Regions from separate parts of the Homo sapiens genome. Here region 2 is linked to region 1. A link means that fine-mapping ties the variant in region 1 to the expression of a gene that starts in the linked region. Tissue or cell type: spleen. Region 1 holds a variant in brackets; the other region holds the start of a gene. All regions are shown on one strand. Distances are between the middles of the regions.

Region 1 (11,073 bases):
CCTTACAGTCAGCATTTCTGGTGACACCACATTTCTAGCATTAAGCCAAACATTAATTTTCTCATCCTATACTTTGGAAAGATGCGCCTTGCTCTTCTGAACCCCAGGAAGCTTAGAAAGCTTAATGAAAGGACTCCTGCCATACAGTTCCCGTGGTATTTCAATAATCCCAGCTCACTGTATAGTATAATAAGGCTCTAAGTCAATTTTTAGAGGGTACTGCATGATAGCAGAGTGTTTATTACCAGCGCAGAAGATACAGTATGGTATAGGATAGAAGGAATACAATGCAGTTCTATAAATATTGAGAATTTACTATGTACCAGTGCTGTGCAATGAACTGGGTCCCCCTAAAATGTATGTGTTGGAGCCCTAAGCCCACAGTGTGACTGTATTTGAAGACAGGGCTTATTTGGAGGTAGTAAAGGTTAAGTGAGGTCATAAGGGTGAAGCCTCAATTTCCTAGGGCTGGTGTCCTTATAAGAAAAGGAGGAGGCCAGGTATGGTGGCTCACATCTGTAATCCTAGCACTTTGGGAGGCTGAGGTGAGGCGAGAGGATCTCTTGAAGTCAAGAGTTCAAGACCAACCTGGCCAACATGGTGGAACCCCGTCTCTACTAAAAATACAAAAATTAGTCTGGGCACAGTGGTTCAAGCCTATAATCCCAGCACTTTGGGAGGCCAAGGCAGGCAGATCACTTGAGGTCAGGAGTTGGAGACCAGCCTGGCCAACATGGTGACACCCCGTCTCTACTAAAAATACAAAAATTAGCTGGGCATGGTGGCGGGGGCCTGTAATCCCAGCTACTCAGGAGGCTGAGGCGGGAGAATTGCTTGAACCCAGGAGTCGGAAGTTGTAGTGAGCAGAGATCACGCCACTGCATTCCAGCCTGGGTGACAGAGAGAGACTCCCTCTCAAAAAAAAAAAAAAAAAAAAAAAAAGAGAGAGAGAGAGAGAAGGAAACACCAGATCTCTCTCTCTCTCTCTCTCTCTCTCTCTCTCTCTCTCCACCCACAGTGAAAAGAGGCCACGTGAGGACACAGAAAGAAGGCAGCCATCCACAAGCCAGAAAGAGGAGAGAAGCCTCACCAGAAACCAACCCTGATGGCACCTTGGTCATGGACTTTTAGCCTCTAGAACTGCGTGAGAATAAATGTCTGTGGTATAAGGCACTCAATCTGTGGCATTTTGCTAGGGCAGCCTGAATAGATGAATGCAGCCAGGCACACTGTTCTAAGCATGAGCAACAGGGCAGTGAGCAAACAGATGAGGTCTCTATGCTCACAGAGCTTACATGCTGGTAGCGGGAGAGACTCGTCCCCTGGATCCTTCCACCCAAAGGTAGTAGTGGCTTCTTGCTTTTTCTGGGTGTCAAACTTCTGGGTTCCTTCTCTCTCGTTTGATTTATCACACTCTTTCATTCCTATGTAACACATTCAATGTAGTAAATTTCCTTCTTCGAAAATACTTGAAGTGCTTTCTATTGCCTGGCTGGACCTAAGTAATAAAAGTCTATTTTCCACTGTGATTTCTGAGGATCACAGTATAATTCTGGTACCCATAAAACATGCAAATAATGCTTCATTCATTTTTCTTTTCTTTCTTTCTTTCTTTTTTTTTGAGATAGGGTCTCACTCTGTCACCTAGGCTGGAGCGAAGTGTTATAATCATGGCTCACTGTAGCCTCAAACTCCTGGGCTCAAGTGATTCTCCCATCTTAGCCTTCTGAGTAGCTAATTTTTGTAGAGACGGGATTTCAGCATGTTGCCCAGGCTGGTCTCAAACTCCTGGGCTCAAGAAATCCACATGCCTCAGCCTCTCAAAGTGCTGGGATTACAGGCGTCAGTCATTTATTCTTTTATTTATTTATTTGAGACAGAGTTTCGCTCTGTTACTCAGGCTGGAGTGTAATGGCGTGATCTCAGCTCACTGCAACCTCCGCCTGCTGGTTCAAGCGATTCTCCTGCCTCAGCCTCCCAAATAGCTGAGATTACAGACGTGCACCACCACGCCTGGCTAATTTTGTATTTTTAGTAGAGACGGGGTTTCGCCATGGTGGTCAGGCTGGTCTTGAACTCCTGACCTCAGGTGATCCACCTGCCTCTGCCTCACGAAGTGCTGGGATTACAGGCGTGAGCCACCACACCCAGCTCATTTATTCTTGTTAGCTTAATATTCACAACACTACTCTCCCTCCTTTCCCTCCCCAGGTGTTCAGTCCTACAACTTGTCTTCCTGAAACTCAACAACTCTTCTTCAAAGCTAATTAAAATAATGTCATTAAAACAAATTGAAAATATTGGATTGCTAACTGACGCCAATGCAAATGTCTCTGGCAAGGACTTTTAAACATATTACTATGCAAGTAATACAGTGATTTTTCAGAAGTCCCACTTATTTTCTGGTCTTTTCACTCTTGGTTTGTGTAAGCAATATGAGTATCTGTGCAGGCTGGTTTTATGTTCTTATCATTAGAGTTTCTTGGTTTTACATGTGGTGCTGACAGATGAAGTCCTCTGTGATTTATAAACGGGACTTCACTGCTTTTTTCTGGAACTATGAGTTTGATCAAAGCTGAGCTTGAGCTCAAGATAAACAAGAAAAAATATTGTTGGGTAGTCATTTTCAAACAGAAGTTGCCAGCAGGAGTCCCCTGGGCCTATTGCAATAAGTAGATTTTGTTTGGCATACACATACTTTTATTTTTTTAATTGGATATGTTACCAAAATATGAAAATTAGACACTTTACATATAAAACTCTCAACTTTTCTTGCCTATTAAAAGGTGGAAATATGTACACAGGCATTCCTTTTCCTACAAGGTGACAACATTTCTTCCTAATTTAGAATAAAGCATTTGGTCTCAAGATCACTGAAGTCACAATCATTTACTTCGGCTGTCTGGACCCTGCAGCCATTTGAGTTTTTGCCTCCTTTTATGGAATGTGACGTGAGGGAGAAATAAGTCTATATAGTGTTAAGCCACTGAGACTTTGGGATTTATTTGTTATTACTGCAGTGTAGCCATACTATCTGACTAATGCCTGCAGCTTTTCTGTTGTCACTGGTGCAAGCTAGATGGATAAAGGAACATACTCTTGAGGTACCTACCAGGTTGTATTAGTCATGGTGCTCTAGAGAAATAAAGCCAAGGCCGGGTGCAGTGGCTCACACTTGTAATCCCACACTTTGGGAGGTCGAGGTGGGTGGATCACTTGAGGTCAGGAGTTCGAGACCAGCCTGGCCAACATGGTGAAACCCTGTCTCTACTAAAAATAAATAAATAAATAAATAAATAAAATTAGCCAGGCATGGTGGCAAGTGCCTGTAGTCCCAGCCACTTGGGAGGCTGAGGCAGGAGAATTGCTTGAACCCAGGAGGTGGAGGTTGCAGTGAGCCAAGATCACGCCACTGCACTCCAGCCTGGGCAACAGAGCAAGATTCTGTCTCATAAAAAAAGGAGAGAGAGAAACAATACCAATAAGATACACACACACAGTTGATCTTTTAACAAGATGGGTTTGAGCTGTGCAGGTTCACTTATATGTGGATTTTTAAAAAATAAATATATGGCAAACATTTTTGGAGGCTTGCAACAATTTCAAAAAAAGTTGCCAAAACGTAGCCTAGAAATATCAAAAACTTAAGAAAAAATTAGGTCTCATGAATGCATAAAATATATGTAAATACTCATCTATTTTATCATTTACTACCATAAAATATGTACAAGTCTATTATAAAAAGCTAAAATTTGGCCCGGCGTGGTGGCTTACGTCAGTAATCTTAGCACTTTGGGAGGCGGAGGCAGGCGGATCACGAGGTCAGGAGATTGAGACCATCCTGGCTAACACGGTGAATCCCCGTCTCTACTAAAAATGCAAAAAATTAGCCAGGCATGGTGGCGGGCGCCTGTAGTCCCAGCTACTTGTGAGGCTGAGGCAGGAGAATGGCGTGAACCCAGGAGGCGGAGCTTGCAGTGAGCCGAGATCGCATCACTGCACTCCAGCCTGGGCGGCAGAGCGAGACTAGCCTCAAAAAAAAAAAAAAAAAAAAAAGCCGGGTGCGGTGGCTCACGCCTGTAATCCCAGCACTTTGGGAGGCTGAGGCGGGTGGATCACAAAGTCAGGAGATGGATACCATCCTGGCTAACACTATAAAACCCCATCTTTACTAAAAATACAAAAAATTAGCTGGCAGGAGAAAAGCATGAACCCAGAAGGCGGAGCTTGCAGTGAGCTGAGATCCCACCACTGCACTTCAGCCTGGGCAACAGAGCAAGACTCCCTCTAAGAAAAAAAAAAAAAAAACAGAAAAACTAAAATTTATCAAAGCTTATGCACATACAGACTGCACATGGTGCTATTCCCAGTCCAGAGAAATGGAAGTAAACCTAAGGATACAGTATTAAATTACAACTGCATAAAATTAACTGTGGCATACACCACACTACTGTAATAATTTTGTAGCCACATCCTGTTGCTATTGCATGTGCTCAAGTGTTGCGAGTATCCCCTTAAAACACTGTGTGATGCTAATCATCTCCGCATGAGCGGTTCCTTTCTCTAGTAAATTGCCTATCTCAGTAAAAGGTGATCTCTAGTGTTTCTCACGTATTTTTCATCGTGTTTACTGCAATAGCGTAAACCTTGAATAACACCATGGGACCCATACAAAGTGCCAGTAGCGATGCCGGAAGTGCTCCCAAGAAGCAGAGAAAAGTCCTGACATTACAAGAAAAGATTGAATTGCTTGATATGTACCATAAATTGAGGTCCGCAGCTGCAGTTGCTGCCACCGCAGACAATTCATTCATCTTGTAAACAGACAATATAAACTGAGGGTATCGATAAATACAATATGGTACTATAAAGGTATTTTCTCTGCCTTATAATCTTCTTAATAACATTTTCCTTTCTTTAGCTTACTTAAGAATACAGTATATAACATATATATTAATCACAAAATATGCATTAATCAACTTTTTGTGATAAGGCTTTCAGTCAGCAGAAGGCTACTAGTGGTTAAATTGGGAGAAAATCAAAAGTTATACATGAATTTTTGGCCAGGCGCGGTGGCTCACAC[C/T]TATAATCCCAGCACTTTGGGAGGGTGAGGTGGGCAGATCACTTGAGGTCAGGAGATCGAGACCAGCCTGGCCAACATGGTGAAACCCCATCTCTACTAAAAATACAAAAATCAGCTGGGTATGGTGGTGCACACCTGTAGTGCTAGCTACTCGGGAGGCTGAGGCAGGAGAATTGCTTGAACCTGGGAGGTGTATGTTGCAGTGAGCCGAGATTATGCTACGGCACTCTAGCCTGAGAGACAGAGCGAGACTATGTCTTAAAAAAAAAAAAAAAAAAAAGAAAGTTATACATGGATTTTTGACTTCATTGGAGGTGCCCCTAACCTTTGGTTTGTTTCAAAAGTCAACCGTGTGTGTGTGTGTGTGTGTGTGTGTGTGTGTGTGTAGATACACGTGAGGGAGAGAATTTTAAAGAACCGGCTTACACAAATGTGGAGGCTGGCAAGTCTAAAATCTAATGTGTAGGGCAGGCCAGCGGCATGGAGATTCACCTAAGAGTTGATATTGCAGTCTTGAGTCTGCAGTCTGGGAACCCAGGCAGAATTTCTGTGTTGCAGTCTAGAAGCAGAATTCCGTCTTCTTTGGGAAATCTTAGTCTTCGATCTTAAAGCCTTCAAATGACTGCATGAGTCCAATTACAGAAAGTAACCTGCTTACAGTCATCCCCGCTTAACCACAGTTTCACTTTCTGTGGTTTCAGTTACCTGTGGTCAACCATGGTCTAAAGACATTGAATGAAAATGTCTAGAAATAAACAGTTCATAAGTTGTACATTGTGCGCCATTCTGAGTAGCGTGATGAAATGTTGAGCCATCCTGCTCTGTCCTGGGAGGTGAATTGTCTTTTGTCCAGAATGTCCATGTTGTATACGCTACCTGCCTGACAGTTCCAGAGTAGCCAGCTCGGTTATCAGATCAGTTGTCACGGCATTGCAGCGCTCGTGTTCAAGTCATCCTTATTTTACTTTATAATGTCTCCAAAGCACAAGGGTAGTGATGCCGACAATTCAGACATGCCAAAGGGAAGCCAGAAAATGCTTTCCTTAAGTGAAAAGGTGAAAGTTCTAGACTTAGTAAGAAAACAAATTGTATGCTGATGTTGCTAAGATCTATGATAAGAATAAATCTTCTATCTATGAAATTATAAAGAAGGAAAAAGGGCCCGGCGCGGTGGCTCATGCCTGTAATCCCAGCACTTTGGGAGGCCGAGGTGGGGAGATCACGAGGTCAGGAGATAGAGAGGATCCTGGTGAACACGTTGAAACCTCATCTCTACCAAAAATAGAAAAAAATTAGCTGGGCAAAAAAAAGAAAAAAAAAAAAAAGAAGGAAAAAGAAATGTAGCCAGTTTTGCTGTTGTACCTCTCACTGCAAAAGTTAAGGCCACAGTGTGTGGTAGCTGCTTAATTAAGATGGAAAAGGCGTTAAATTTGTGAGTAGGATAATAAGTTTTTTTAGACAGAGAGAGAGACCACATTCACATAACTTTTATTATAGTATATTGTTTATTATTTATTATTATTGTTAATCTATTACTGTGCCTAAGTTATAAATCAAACATTATCTTAGGTATCCATGTATAGGGGAAAACACAGTACATATAAGATTTGGCGCTATCCAAGGTTTCAGGCATCCACTGAGGGTCTTCAAATGTATCCCCTATGGATAAAGAGGTCTAGTGTACCCAAAAATCTACTGACTATAAATGTTAATTGCGTCTAAAAAATAACTTCATCACGGAGACATCTAGATTAGTGTTTGAACAAACGACTGAGCATCATAGCCTAGTCACATTGACACATACAATTAACCATCACACAGGTTATAAACAAAGTCTTTGTCCTGTACATCTTCCTGATCCATCAACTTTTTCTCTTTGGTTAGAAATTTAAAACATTCTCTATGTTAAAAGAAATAGATATAATATGCAGAGGGATAGAAATAATTGCTCTTGGATTTGTAATACAAGACATGAAAACATTAAAGAAATCTTCAAAACATGTCTCCACTACTTAGTCCTTCGCCAGCCACCATCAGAGTGCGTAGGTGGGTATGTCTGCTACATTCATCTATGCGGTCCGGGTCTGGCTTCCATTGCCAGCATCAGCACAAAACCCCTTCTAACCTCTAGACAAGCCTGAAGCTCCTGCTACTTATCCTGTTGTAGCTCTTCCCCAAGCACAGACACATTTTGCCATGGACCAAGAAGAAATGAAGGTCAAGGATGCGATGAGGTTGTAGTAGTGGGAGGTGGGGAAAACGGAAAGAGGATCAAGCAGAGATTCAGTGCAGGAAGTAAAGGGCTCTAGGCACAACTCAGACTGGGGCAACTGCTCCCTTCTATTCAGAAATCTCACGCTGGGATTTTTCCTCTCTCCATGCTCGTCTCTCAACTAAGAGAAGACATGGTTTGCTTGGAAGACAGCCAAGTACAGTAATTAATGGTATAGATTTAAGCAGACAGGCCTGGATTTGGGTCCCAAACTAAGCCACTCACTACCTAGCTGACTTTTAAGGTACAATTTAACCCTCTCCGGGCCTCACTTTTTTTATTTGTTAAACAGGGATTGAAAGTAATATTTCCTTAACACACACACAAACACACACACGAAGAGACACAAGGATATTAGTAAAAGTGATGGATATATCTATGTCTAGTATCTTAATTGTGATGATGGTTTCATGGGTGTGTGCATATGTCTACACTCATCAAATTGTTTGCATTAAATACGTGCAGTTTGACTGGGCACGGTGGCTCACGCCTGTAATCACAGCACTTTGGGAGGCTGAGGCGGGTGGATCACCTGAGGTCAGGAGTTCGAGACCAGCCTGTCCAACATGGTGAAACCCCATCTCTACTAAAAATACAAAATTAGCCGGGTGTGGTGGTGGGCGCCTGTAATCCCAGCTGCTCAGGAGGCTGAGGCAGTAGAACCGCTTGAACCCAGGAGGCAGAAGTTGCAGTGAGCTGAGATCTTGCCACTGCACTCCAGCCTGGGCAACAACGGAAAAACTTCATCTCAAAAACAAACAAACAAAAAAAAGTGCAGTTTGTCGTATATTAATCATCCCTCAACAAACAAAGCTTTTTTTAAATAGTATTTTTTAAAGTTATGATGAGGACTCAAAGATATTACGCCAGAAAATGCAGATAAATTATAGTTATTACCACTTTTTTGTTTGTTCTAATAATGTTCCAAGTACTTTAGTTTGTTTTTCCTTCATTTGTTCTAACACTGTTCCATGTACTTTCTGTACATTTATTCAATCAATTCTTTTTTTTTTTTATTTGAGATGGAGTTTCACTCTTGTTGCTCAAGCTGGAGTGCAGTGACACAATCTCAACTCACTGCAACCTTCACCTCCCAGGTTTGAGAAATTCTCCTGCCTCAGCCTCCTGAGTAGCTGGGATTACAGGCATGCGCCACCACACCCAGCTAATTTTGTATTTTTAGTAGAGACGGGATTTCTCCATGTTGGTCAGGCTGGTCTCAAACGTGCGACCTCAGGTGATCTGCCAGCCTCGGCCTCCCAGCGTGCTGGGATTACAGGCGTGAGCCTCCACACCTGGCCTCAATCAATTCTTACAACAACCCTGAGCTAAGAACTTGGTATTGCTCCTTGTCTATTTAGAGCCTGTGTAGGGATCAGCAAAAGGCTCCCTTTCTTCAAGCCACTTTACTTCCATCTATTGGAAAACTGTCATAATAAACTATTCTTATTAGAACAAGATACAATATTGGCATCTGCTAGGAAGCTTTGGTAACAAAGATCCACCTCTCTCATGATGGGAACGGCAACCCCTTACATCTGGTGCCATTGTGCTATACATGGCTGTAGACATTATCGTTATTTCTATTTTACAGTTCAGGTGACTTCAGTTCATAGAGGTTAAGTCACTCAGCTGAGATTATACCAGGAGTCATCACTGTGCTTTGAGCCAAGGCAAACAGCACAGGGCCAGGTAGAAAGTAGGGTTTCATTAAACATTAATTCCTGTTTTTGTCCTTGTTAGAACTAACTCAAAAAGGCAAAGTGGAGTTTCTTACAGGTTTTTGCCTTAAAAGGAAAGTTATTCAAATGGCAGTGTAATGGATAAATTAGAAAAGATAATTGCATTACCTGTATGAATTGGTATGGCATTATTAGTTGGTTTGTGCAGCATAGTTTTGATTTGTATGTTATAATGCAGCCTTTGTGTGTGTATTAAAGTTTTGCTAATTATTAAATGCCTTGCGTCTGTGACACACTTTATCCTCTTCAAAGGGTCTCTCCATTTACTCCTGACAATAGCCCTGGATTGGAAAGGACACATGTTATCATTCAGATTTCACAGACGTAAAAAGGAGGACTGTCTGTCCAGCATGGTTCCCTATTCATGTGGTAAAGGGCTAGGCAGATGAATGTTAAATCTTTTATTCAGGAAGAACAATTAATTTCTGAAGAAATCGACTGGGGTCCAGGCCACAGGCCACCCATTAAATCCTCTCTTTAACTCATTGGACAAAACCCCTGAGGATACAAAGCTAAGAAGCAGCACCTAACCCAGAGAGCTCACATGGACTGGCTGGTGAGACAATGCTACCCTGAGCAGAGTGCTGAAATAGAGATGCACTCAAGTACACCAAGAAGCAGAGGGTCCAATTTCCAGCCCTGCTACTTACTAAGGCTGCAGTCTTGGGTGAGCTACTCAACTTTCCATTGCTTCAGTTGGTTTATTTCTAAATGAAAAACACAGTAACACGCCAAAGGGTTATTGTAAAGATTAAATGAGTTTATATATAAAAGCATTTAGATTAGCATGTGACATATAGCCCAGTACAAGGGATGTACTGTGTGAGTGTGTGTGTGTGTGTCTGTACAAACACACATATATCCTCCCCTCCCCTCCCCTGCCCTCCCCTCCCCTCCCTCCTTCCTTCCCTTCCTTCCTTCCTTCCTTCCTTCCTTCCTTCCTTCCTTCCTTCCTTCCTTCCTTCCTTTCTTCCTTCCGTAGAAGTGATCAGTTCTTTGTGATCTGTTAGGAAACAGAGAAGACATCAGGGGGAAGTAATTGCCCTCACTCTTCCTCAAAAGATTTCAGGAAAATAGTCCTTGACAGAAGGAACCAGAACACACAGTATGATTAACTTTTTTGAAGTATCAGGCAAATCTCCAGAAGGGAATGAGAACTTGCCAAAGTTACTGACAACCCTATGTTTTGGAAATACTAATTTTAGGGACATTCCTTTAAAACATGAAACACATTTTCCTTTTATTTTAGACAGAGAATGTGAAGCCTACTTAGCCTTTTCTTGATGACTCAGGGTCAGTCTTTTGTTTTTATTAATCTCACCTAAGAGCCACTCCTGAGGGGCTGCCTAAATCTACATGAGTAGCCTACTGAGGAGTCTGAGAGGGGCAGTTCCTCCATGACAAATGAAATGATGTGGCCTCTTACACCATCTCCAGGTTCTCATTCCAACAGCAAAGGAAACCTGCAGTGTCTCCTTGAACCTATTCCCACCACTGTCCTCGTTTGACTCTTTCCGTCCCTTGTGGACTTTGGTTCTTTGTCAGTTTCTATTTCTATTTCTTTTTGAGTCTTAGCAAAAGGACTTGGACCTTTTAGAAGAATGGGCCCTGTGCAAAACCAAAACACTGAAGAAGCTTGGAAGGGAAAAATAGATTAAATCATTGTGTCTCCTAGAGTGTGCCAATAAAAAATAAAGACTCATTTCTATTGAGTAGTTCTCACATTGTGTTAAACTGTTCTGAGGGTTATGAGCAACATAAGAAGTAAAAGCAATGGTCAACCTTTTTCTCTGTTGCTTGAGAGTTTGCAAAGCAGCCTAACTTCCAGGATCTTTAAACAGGAGCTCTCTAAATATCAACAGGTCTGCAAATGTTTAGAGCAAGTTAGGTGGAAATGCTAGGACTCAACCCTTCTGAGTTTAAATTTTGTTCCTTTTTATTTTTTCTATTATATCATCTCACCTGTCTGAAGCAGA
Region 2 (11,073 bases), 970 kb before region 1:
TTGTCGATTTGGAGTTTCATAGTACGGTCTTTTTGTTTTTTTTTTCAATTCTCACATATAGCAAGTCCTTAATGAATATTTGTTGACTAAATGAATACTGTTCAAAATCAAGGCACACCCATACCTGATAATCTCCCACATTTGGGTCTGGCTGGATGATCCAAAAGTACTTTCCACATATTTATACTTCCTCATTTCCATTAAGAACTGTGTAGGGGAGGAGGCCAGGCTCAGTGGCTCGCACCTGTAATCCCAGCACTTTAGGAGGCTGAGGCTGGAGGACTGCTTGAGCCCAGGAGTTCGAGACCAACCTGGGCAACATGATGAAACCCCATCTCCACAACAAAACTAAACAAAACTAAACTGTGTAGGAGAGGAAAACCAGGCCTTTATTACGCCCATTTCACAGGTGAGACAACCGAGGCTCATTAAGAGCCACTGGCTTCCTCAAGTGAGTATCTGAAAAGTCTGAGGGAATTTCAGTCCAGATTTTACCAGTAGGGAAGCCCTCCGCAAAGAAATCAAGACAATTTTAGCTGCCTTGTGCCTCGGCCTGCCTTATCTCAGGCCTTGCCAAAGGTCCATGTTCATCTTCCCCGGCATGCAGGCTGGGAGCCCCACAAGCCCCTGCTTTCCCCGACACTCCACCTCCCATTACCTCTCCAGGGCCAGACGTCTAACTCCGAAATCTGTGCCCTGCTCTCCAGCCCCTGTCTCTGTCTGAAGTCCAGTGTTTCCTCTCCATCTGTCATCTCAGGCTCTCCTTGTGGGTGACCCTCTGCCCTGGAGTGCATTTATTTGGTTGACACTTACTAAGCCCCCTCTTTTTTTTTTTTTTTTTGAGATGGAGTCTTGCTCTGTTGCCCAGGCTGGAGTGCAGTGGCACAATCTCAGCTCACCACAACCTGTGCTCCCCGGGTTCAAGCGATTCTCGTGCTCCAGCCTCCAGAGTAGCTGGGACTACAGGTGCCTGCCACCACGCTTGGCTAATTTTTGTATTTTTAGTGAAGACGGGATTTCACCATGTTGGCCAGGCTGGTCTCAAACTCCCGACCTCAAGTGATCCACCTGCCCGGCCTTTCCAGAGTGCTGGGATTATAGGCGTGAGCCACTGTGCTTGGCCTAAGTCCCTCTTTTATAACGGACACTGGGCTGGGGGCTGGATGAACACGAATGAACAAGACACAACCCCTGCCCTCTGGGAACACAGTTGCGTGGAAAGGGTCACGAGAGATAGTTGGACAGAGGACTCGACAGCATTTGGTAGGACACTGAGATCTGAGTGCAGGCGCTGGGGAAATCCGGATGGTGTTTTGAAGGATGAGTAAGAGTTCCTTTCCTTGGAAAAGGAAGAGAGGGAATTCCAGTGGGAGGGAACAGCGCAGGCTGAAGTGCAGAGATGTGAATTGGCAGATAGATCAGTTTGGGGCCCTGCCAGGAGCTGGCATGGGTAGGACAGAGGGGAGGAGGCAAGAAAGGTGAGGCTTGGAAGGGAAGTGGGCCTGGAAGGTGAGGCTCGGAAGGGAAATGGGGCTTGGAAGAGGGCCTACTTTTCCATACTGTGGTGTTTGGATTTTATCTGGGGGTGGGGTCCCTGCAAGGTTTTAGGTCAGTGCCTTGCGTGATCACATTTGGATTTTAGGAAAGTGACTCCACAGCTGTGTGGGGGATGGATCAAGGGGATACACGACATACTGTGTTTTGTGCATCACTGTGTCTCCAGCACTTAGTGGGTGCTGACACCAAGTAGGGGCTCAATGTTTGTTGAAGGGATGAATGAGTGGCTCCATTGAGAACTTACTGCAGGAATCCAGGGGAAGGTTGTGAACTAGGATTATGGGAGTGGGGAGAGGGCCGAACGTGGGAAAGGGAGAAGGTTTCTATTAGACAGGGTCTGGGCAGGAAAATGGAACTCAGGCCAGGAAGTTCAGTGGATAGAATTTATGTAGAAAACTAGTTACAAAGGCATAGAAAGGGCAGAAACAAAACAGAACAAAACATGGTGCTGGGGGCCACCCAGAGATTAGCAACATCTGGAAGCTGCTGCCACCCTACGGCTGGAGGGACAAAGGTGGTTTCACCTGCTCCCAGAAGCCAGAGTCCCTGGAGTGAGCTCGGACCATGAAGAAGGGGTGCCACAGGTTGAACTCCCCAGGAAGCTGACTCTGAGATGCAGGCCAGCCTGCAAGAGGATTCTGTGGGAAGAGGGGGAGGAAGGAACAGGATTGGGCAGAGGAAAAAGCTGGGCTGTGATGCAATTTTAGGAAGGCCTAAATCTGGGAGCTCTGAAGCTGGGATGCCTTGGACAGGTGGCCCAAGTTGGGACAAGGGGACCTTTATTCTTCCATGATCAGCAGTCACTGGATGTGGACCCTTGGGAAGGGAGTGTGACCTCCGGCAAAGTGGCTCTTCTCAGTCAAGGCAATTTCCAAAACAGCTCCTGATATGCACTCCCAGCAGCCAGGGAAACAGATCCTCCAGTTGGGCAGCGGGATCTGGGGAGCACATCGCAGCAGCCATGCGGAGTGGCTGTCTCCTCTGGAGCCCCAGAGGAGGTGTGGCCAGCTGCCTGAAGCAAATAGTAGCCTGGGCATTCTCTTCTTCCTCCTGCCTTCTAATCTCCCTCCCGGGCCTCCCACTGGGCAAACTGGGCTGGAAGCCAATGGGCAAGTGAGCCTGGGAAGTAGAGCTGGTGAGGGCCAGCCCCAGGGAGCTGAACAGTGCGGGGTAGGGCCCGGCACTGAGAGCTCACAGGTCTAGGGTGGGCTGTGGGAGAAAGGAAAAAGGCAGATTCAAAGGGGAACCCACGATGAGTGCCTGTGATCCTGGCCCCTGGGTGGGCGGAGCTGGGTGGATGGTGGCATGCCTGTCTCTCAGAAGAGGCAGAGAAGGAGGCACACACCTGGGAGGAAGATGCTCAGGGGCCATGCTGAGTTTGCCATTCAAGTGCTGGCAGCTCAGTGGATCTTACATTCTGGCACAGAATAATCTTCAAAGACAAAAAAAATGTAGGTGGGGCCGGGCGTGGTGGCTCAAGCCTGTAATCCCAGCACTTTGGGAGGCTGAGGTGGGTGGATCACTTAAAGTCAGGAGTTCAAGACCGGCCTGGCCAACATGGTGAAACCTCGTCTCTACTACAAATAAAAAATTACCCAGGCATGGTGGCGGGCGCCTGTAATCCCAGCTACTGGGAGGCTGAGGCAGGAGAATCACTTGAACCCGGGAGGCAGAGGTTGCAGTGGGCCGAGATTGGGTCACTGCACTCTAGCTTAGGCGATGGAGGGAGACTCTGTCTCAAAACAAACAAACAAACAAACAAACAAACAAACTAACTAACTAACTCTTCGGTGGGCTCTCCTCTGGGCACAGGACCAAGTGCAACATGGCTTTCAAGCCCTTCCCAACACTGTCTCAGGAGACCTCTGCAGGCTCAGCTCCCACCACCCTTGTAGTTTCTCTGGCCTGCTAGCCCTGCCCTTCCGCACACCCCTTGTCTGGCCCGGCCTCCCACCATTCATACTCTCCCTTGAGCAACTCCCTCACAGTCCCTGCACATCTCCCAGGTCAAATGCCTTCTAGAGTCCTCCCTAACTCCTGTTTTCCCCTACAAATTGTAATCTCTCCTTCCAGTCGCCATAAATGCTTAGGAGCTTGACCGCACCACCCCTTATGAGCTACTTAACCGCAGCAAGTAACTTCATCTTTCGTTCTTTTTTTAAATTATTATTATTATTATTTTTTATTTTTTGAGACTAAGTCTTGCTTTCTCCCCAAGGCTGGAGTGCAGTGGCACGATCTCGGCTCACTGCAACCTCTGTCTCCCAGGTTCAAGTGATTCTCCCACCTCAGCCTCCCCAGCAGCTGGGATTACAGGCGCGCGCCACCACACCCAGCTAATTTTTGTACTTGTAGTAGAGACGGGGTTTCACCATGTTGGCCAGATTGGTCTTGAACTCCTGACCTCAGGTGATCTGCCCACCTCAGCCTCCCAAAGTGCTGGGATTACAGGCGTGAGCCACCACGCTTGGCCTAACTTCATCCTTCTAAGGCTTCAGTTTCTTCCCTGTGAAATGGGGCAAAAAATAACCCCATAGTGTGGTTGGAAAACTGAAGTAATACATATAAAGTGCTAAGAACAGTGTCCGACACATTGTAGGCCTCGATTCATGTTAGCTATTATTATTATTTTAATTTTCACCTTCTAATTCCCAGCGTTTAGCTCTTGGTAGATGCTTAATTAGTATTTGTTGAATGAATGGAGAATTAATAAGGAAAATGATTTATTCCTGGGGCTCGACCTGGTTTTAGAAAATTAAGTATTTAGCAGAAGGACAAGTAAGGGCTCTCTAATAATAGTTATATTGTTGGGTGCCCAGGGACTCCAAACTGACCTGGTTCACTCAAGAAAGAAAAATGACAGATTCCAAGTTGTTTCACGCGCAACTTTGATGCTCTTCCAAATCACACGGAATGAATGCATGCGCACCACCAGGCAGGGCTGCCCGGGTGCAGGCGGTATCTCTGGCAGTGGCCAGAATGACTTCCACCAGCCTACCCACCTACCCAGGTTGGCACTCAGGCCCTAGACCCTGCGGCGCGTGTGGAGGCTGGGGAGGGAGTAGGAATCCGGCGGCAGCCACGTGGGCCCCTTCCGCCCGCTCCCCACATCCTTTGTTTCCCACCGGCCCTGGCTCAGGAAGCTCTTTCTGCGAGTCACCGCGAAGGGGCGGCCCGGGAGCCTGGAGAAGCTATTTCCGTGCAATCCGGGCGGGCGGCAGGCGCGGGGGGGTTGGGGGGGCGTGGAGGTGGAGGCAGCGCAGAAGGCCCAGTGTTTGCTTTTATTTCCTCCAACAGAAGGTTCTATTTGTGGAAGCGAACAGACGCTGGGGATTAGAGCTGGGAGGGGGCAGGAAAAGGGAAAAAAAAAAGCCACATCCACTACCACGCACAGGTCTTCCCCGGAACTACCGCGTGGGGGTGAATGACTGATTCTGGAATTCATCACCTCCCTATCCCCCTCCTTCCTCCGGCTGCAGCCGGGCCTCGGCGGCGCCCACGGCTCCAACCGGAGCTCCCCAGGCGCTGGGCGGTGGGGGGATCCCCGGGGCGAAAGGCGTCGCCGCGGGGCTGCAGCGAGCGGCGGGTGCAGAGAACCGTGGTGCGCGCTCCCGCCTCGCGCCCGCAGCCCATTGTGCTTACTGTGAATGAGGCGCGCGCACCAATCAGCGGTCGCTTCGCTCCCCGCAGCCCCGTCCCTCCCGCCCACTTCCCCGGGCCCTTACGTCACGGGAACTTTTCCTCCGCCCCCTCCTTCGGCTTCTCCGCTGAGCTGGGGGCCTGCGGGAGGGCGCGCGCGCCGCCTCCTGCCCAGCCCCTCCCAGCCCTGGGGGCGTGTGCGCGCGTCCAGGCCGGCCCGGGACGCACCACCTGCGCCCGAGCGCGCGCTGCCCGGAGCATCCCCAGCCCTAAGTCCACCCCCATTCCCCCCACCTCCTACTCCCTCTCCCCTTCCCCCAGTCTCCTCCCTCCGCTCCGGAGACTGCTCGCTGGGCGGCGGGGCCGGAGTCGTCGCAGCCACCTCATTGCACAACCCGGCTTCCCAACTGTTTACACAGCCCGGCCTGTGAGTGTGTGTGTATACAGCGTGAGTCACCAGGAGGCGGAGGAGGTGGAGGAAAAGGAGAAGGAGGAGTGCACTGGCCGGGATCGGTGCAGCGCTCACACTCACTCACAGTCACTCTCTCTGAGCGCGTCTCGCTCGCTCTCATACACGCCCGGAGCCCAGGAGCGCTCAGGATCCCGAGCGCCGCGAAAAAGTTCCCCCGGCTTTTGCTGGAGACTCATCGCTTTGGGAAGTGCATTTGCTTCGTGGCTCCGCCGAGCCTGCTGAATCCTGTCCTCGCGGCTCGGGACCCCGGGATCGCTGACCGCTGCCGCCGCCGCCTCTGCCTCCCGGACTATCGGCAGCCTCGGCAACAATAGTGGCGGCCGCCCCCAGCGAGGCTCCGGGAGCCCTTGCCTGCGGGGGTCCGGGGACTCGAGCCGGCCTCCGCCTCCCGGACGCACAGCCAGCGTGGTCCCCGCGTGCAACGCGAGCGCCGGGGAGTGGCTCCTGCTTTGCCCCTCGTGGGGGCCGAGCCAAGACCAGTCTGCAAACTCCATCCCGCCGGCTGGAAGAAGTCGCGGAGCCGGCACCAAACCCGCAGCGTCTTCCCGCGCGGATCCCGGGACTTAAAAAGCCGGGGCCACCCCGGCCCAGGACGGGATGCGGGTCGGTCCGGTGCGCTCTGCCATGAGCGGCGCCTCGCAGCCCCGCGGCCCGGCCCTGCTCTTCCCAGCCACCCGAGGCGTCCCGGCCAAACGCCTGCTGGACGCCGACGACGCGGCGGCTGTGGCGGCCAAGTGCCCGCGCCTCTCCGAGTGCTCCAGCCCCCCGGACTACCTCAGCCCCCCCGGCTCGCCCTGCAGCCCGCAGCCCCCGCCTGCCGCTCCGGGGGCCGGCGGAGGCTCCGGGAGCGCGCCGGGGCCCAGCCGCATCGCCGACTACCTGCTGCTGCCCCTAGCCGAGCGCGAGCATGTGTCCCGGGCGCTGTGCATCCACACTGGACGCGAGCTGCGCTGCAAGGTAGGCGCTCCCGGGCCAGGACCCGGCTGGGGTCGGGGGCGCGGGACGGGGTGGTAGGCAAAGGTGCTTGGGGTCCGGCCAACGCTTGGGCTGGGCACAGGGCGGATCAGTAGATTGGGTCAGATAAGACGCCATTTGACCAGGTTCACGTTTTTGTGGATCGAGGGGTTTCCCATGGAGTGATATAATGGGGGCGCCTAGAGGAAGTGCAGTGTTCAGTGGCTTTCTCTATCTGTTCCTTTCCTCAGCGCCCAGTGTAGCGCGTGGCGTTCCATATAAGTTGTGGAATTGAAATGGATTCCAGGGCCATGCCATTCCCCTTCTCTCATTCTCCTCGCTCTCCACCCCCCCTCCCCCGCCAATGTCCTGGAAGGACGCCCTTTAGTGGGTGCCTCCTAGGAGCTTGGAGCAGCTGGCAGCTCTCTTGCCGGGCTTGCACGGCACCCGGGCTCAGTTGTAGGTGGTAAGGGGGCTGGAAGACTGTGTCCGGCTCCTGCCTTGGGGATTCCGAATTGAATCCGCGCTGAGACTAGAACACGCCCTCCCAAGGGAGCAGTCCCAGAGTCATCCACCCGAGGCGGAGGAATCTGCTCGGAGTAGAAATGTTGAAAAGCCCACACCGGCCAGGAACCCTCGCTTCGATTCACTTTATTTTCCAGCCAGCGATTTTCCTTTGAACATAGGGATCCCATCCAGGAGGAGGAGACACAGCTCCTAGAAACAGGATCCGCCGGGTCCTCCTCCTGCGCGGGTAGACGCAGAACGTTCCCACAGTCTACTTTATGCGAGCGTGGCACCCCTGCTTGAGGCACCCCAGAGCACCCTCGGGCCGCTCCTTTTCACCCGAAAGATAGGATCACCCCCCAGTTAAGTCGCTTCTGGGTTTTCCGCAACTCACCTGACACTCCCAACACCCCGACCCCGTCCCGGGGCTCGCTGCTGCCACCTACTGCCCAACCCGAATGAAATTTCAGACGCATGATCAAGCCCAGTTTAATAGGGAGGAAAAAAAAACCTTTTCTTCTCCATGACTGGGGCTAAGAGCTGTTCTGGGACAAGCATGTATGTGTGTGTGGTGGGATGGGATGGGATGGGGTGGGAGGAGGGGGCAGCAGGGGATTTTTCTAGCTGGTGCCAGAGCAGCCAGGCCTCTTAGAGGTGGGGTGAGTCTGGCCATTGTGCAACCCCTTCCAGTTCCTCTGAGCAGATAATAGCTGAATCCAGATGGTGACAGCCCGTGTGTCACCGTTTCCAGTTGAGTCTAGGATATGAGTAACTGGACTGAACAAAAGGCCTTTAAAGAGACCAGCCAGCTTCCTAGAAGAGAGGAGATGCTACTCATTTCTAGGGGTGGGGTCGGGTGTGGGGGGATAAACAAACAAGTGGAAAACCCATTCGCAGGATTCCATACCCTTCCTGTGAGAATTGTAACTCAAGGCTGCTTACACTTGAGTCGGACTGTAGGCAGGTTGCTTAAGGCTGCATTGTCCCAGCCTCCCCCTCCAAGTCATCTGTTCCTTCTGATTAATGACAGCTCTGCATGTTCTCTGGCCCCTGCTTCCCCTTGGAGGCTGCAGAGTCACCACATTCTGTGCCCTTTCTGTGTTGAGCACTTTGGGTCTGCAGGAGGCACATGCACGTCCAGGGACTGCTTTTCAGCTCCTGGACAGGCCAGGGGCTTCCTTCTATCAGCCACTCAACTAGTGTGGCCTGCAAACAGGAAAGGGCCACAGAGGGTGGGGGGTTTGCTTAGCTCTCAGGAGCTGACAGAAGATGGGAACATGTACAGGAGACAGTTCTTTCAAATCATCTGTGTGAAAGCGGGTAACCCTTTGGGTATTTGCAAGTCTAGAGCTTTAGGTGTTACTGGTTTTAAAGGTGTCAGGGGCAGCTGGGGCTGCGTAAGGTAAGGTGGCAGAGGAAAGGAGTAGGTGAATGGAACTTACTCACATCCTAAGCCCACAGGTTGAGAACTTCTGTTCAGCTCCCTCAGGGGTTTGGGAGGCTGCCTTTGCTTTTCTAGCCCCCTAAACGGGCCCCCCTTCTCTCTACAGGTGTTTCCCATTAAACACTACCAGGACAAAATCAGGCCTTACATCCAGCTGCCATCGCACAGCAACATTACTGGCATTGTGGAAGTGATCCTTGGGGAAACCAAGGCCTATGTCTTCTTTGAGAAGGACTTTGGGGACATGCACTCCTATGTGCGAAGCCGGAAGAGGCTGCGGGAAGAGGAAGCCGCCCGGCTCTTCAAGCAGATTGTCTCCGCCGTCGCCCACTGCCACCAGTCAGCCATCGTGCTGGGGGACCTGAAGCTTAGGAAGTTCGTCTTCTCCACGGAGGAGAGGTGAGCGGCCGCCACAGCTTCTCCTGTGGCCTTTTGGAACCAAAGCGGAGGTGCAGGTCATGTAGTTAGGTGCTGTGTGTTGGTGCAAAACAAAGTCAAGGGCTCATATGTCCCAGATTTAGTATTTAGAGCTTCTGTTCCTGAGGAGTCACAGCCAAGGTTGGTTTATTCTGCATTCTCTTGGACGGGGCCTGGGGACACCGTGGCGCTTCTATGGGATGGCAAGTGTTGACAGGGTGCTCTTCCTCTCCTACCCCAGGATCAGGTTCATTCCCCATTGTTGTCAGAAAGGTCAGTTGTCTGGGGTACAAATATTAAACTGCCCTTTACGATATTGCCTTCTGAAGGAAGTGTTCAAATCTTTGCTTATGCCAAGTGCTGTTTTGTACCTGGAAGGTTTCACAGAGCTAGTGAGACTGTCATATATGCAGAATTCCACCCTCTTGTTTCACACAGCATTCCTCTCCCATCCCAGTCCAGGTTCTCTGTAACATCACATTCTCTGGTGACTTTTTAGACAGCTTGTTTGGATCCGTCTTCAGAAAATAGCCACATTGAATAGTAAATGGAAGTTGGTTAGGATGGATTGCTAAATATAGATCATAGCTTACCTCATAAAGAACAAGATGAGCTTGATAAGAGAGTAATGAGGCATTAAGATTCAAAGCTGAGGTTTCAGCTAGAGAATTCAGGAAGCCGCATGAGATAGACCACACTTGATTTTAAGAGCCAGCCACATCCCTTGTGGAAAGATTACAAGCAGTAAGGCTGTAACATTGTAGAGGTGAGAGTGAGTTAGTTTGTTGTAAGAAGTGGGCTTATCTCACCTGTGCATTTTTACCTTTGACTCCAGAGCATATGAAACAGTACAGGGTTGAGCTGTCATAAAGCATGACTTTGTATCTGACCTCGCAATAATTATTGGAACACACTGATTAGCAAAGAAAAGCAAACTGTTGGCAATGAAGAAGTTTCTAATTCCTGGAACATGCTCCTTTGATATGGTGATGCATTTTCTGAAACATGCCTTACACACCTCCTTACTAGCTTTTGAAATCTGCATTGCACAGGCGAATATCATGGGCATGGGGTTTGGCAACCCGGGGGTTAAGCAATGTCAGGCTGACGCTATTCGTGTAACCAGCACAGGTGCAGGGTTTTAGTGCTGTAGCAGCCAATCAGGGGCAGACAGTGTGGGTTGAGTCATATTTTCCGTTTACAGAACCAATGGGTATTTTACATAACGACAGGGAGGTCACGCTGAGGACATACTGAAGTTAGCACATGTATACTACACTCCAGGGAACAGGAAGGCAGAAAAAAAAAAAAACAGACCTTTGAGAGGAAAAGGAATTGACCCATCAGCCAGTACCAAATGTTTGCATTTAACTTCACAAGTGACTTACTGAAACGGGTATTTCAGAGAAGCAGGCAGAGACAGGGTGTCACTGGATATCAGAGCTTCCCCACCACATGGCTTTGAGCTTTGGGGGATCCAGGAGACTTGGGTGGCTGGTTCTGAATAAGGAGGCACCTGCAGCTTCATAAGAGAGCCTTTGACTGAAGGTGTTTTAGACTTTCGTTGTTACCTGAACAGAGACCCCCCCTGTAGAATACATATGCTCACATGTTGATGTGCCATCCCAGGGGGAGTGTGTGTCCCTGTGTAAGAATTTCAGGGTCCCTGCGTCCCTGAAATCCATCAGCCACTTTTGTTTGCTCGCATAACCTCTCTGTCCAGGCAAAGTGTTCTTTGCAGTTAAACACCCCAATAAATGTAATTAACATTCCTTGCAACTTTCCCATCCTAATTGTTGCAGCCTGGGCCCAGGAGGACAAAGTTTGCTCTGTGTGCATGTATCAGTGTGGGCACCAGCGCTGATGACCTGTGTGTAATAGCAGTGACTTTGGGCTCCGTGTTCTGTAATGCAGTGTGGGTCCAGGTAGCCCTGGCAGTCATAAGAGGGAAGATGGGTTCGTAGGATGCTCAGGCCCTCTCTGAAGAAGTAGGATATGCTGCTCTTCCCTGCTAGCTTTTGTAGAGAATGCAGCATTCTGAGACAGGCTCCCAGTTCTGCAATGGGAACTTAGTAAATTGCGT

Alleles and levels. Alleles are on the strand shown, and positions count from the first base shown. SD is a standard deviation of normalised expression in the study named.
In carriers of allele T in region 1, the expression in spleen of the gene that starts at base 5,721 in region 2 tends to be higher than with C alone (large effect, 1.2 SD a copy in GTEx).

The links. PIP is the estimated chance that this variant, and not a neighbour inherited with it, causes the effect.
Region 2: TRIB1 starts here. The variant in region 1 is fine-mapped to the expression of TRIB1 in spleen (GTEx, PIP above 0.99).

What each region holds. Positions count from the first base shown.
Region 1 is chr8:126,396,010-126,407,082 of GRCh38, forward strand. No RefSeq gene overlaps it. Among named protein-coding and RNA genes, the nearest start is that of LRATD2, 160 kb to the right of the region's middle. RefSeq lists an enhancer at 4,284-4,785. The variant C/T (reference allele first, on the strand shown) is at 5,084.
Region 2 is chr8:125,424,638-125,435,710 of GRCh38, forward strand. TRIB1 (tribbles pseudokinase 1) reads left to right here and starts at 5,721. Exons shown (of 3, transcript NM_025195.4): 1 at 5,721-6,625; 2 at 8,680-8,972. The coding sequence starts at 6,266. RefSeq lists silencers at 4,894-5,513, 6,244-6,583 and enhancers at 5,874-5,923, 7,394-7,483.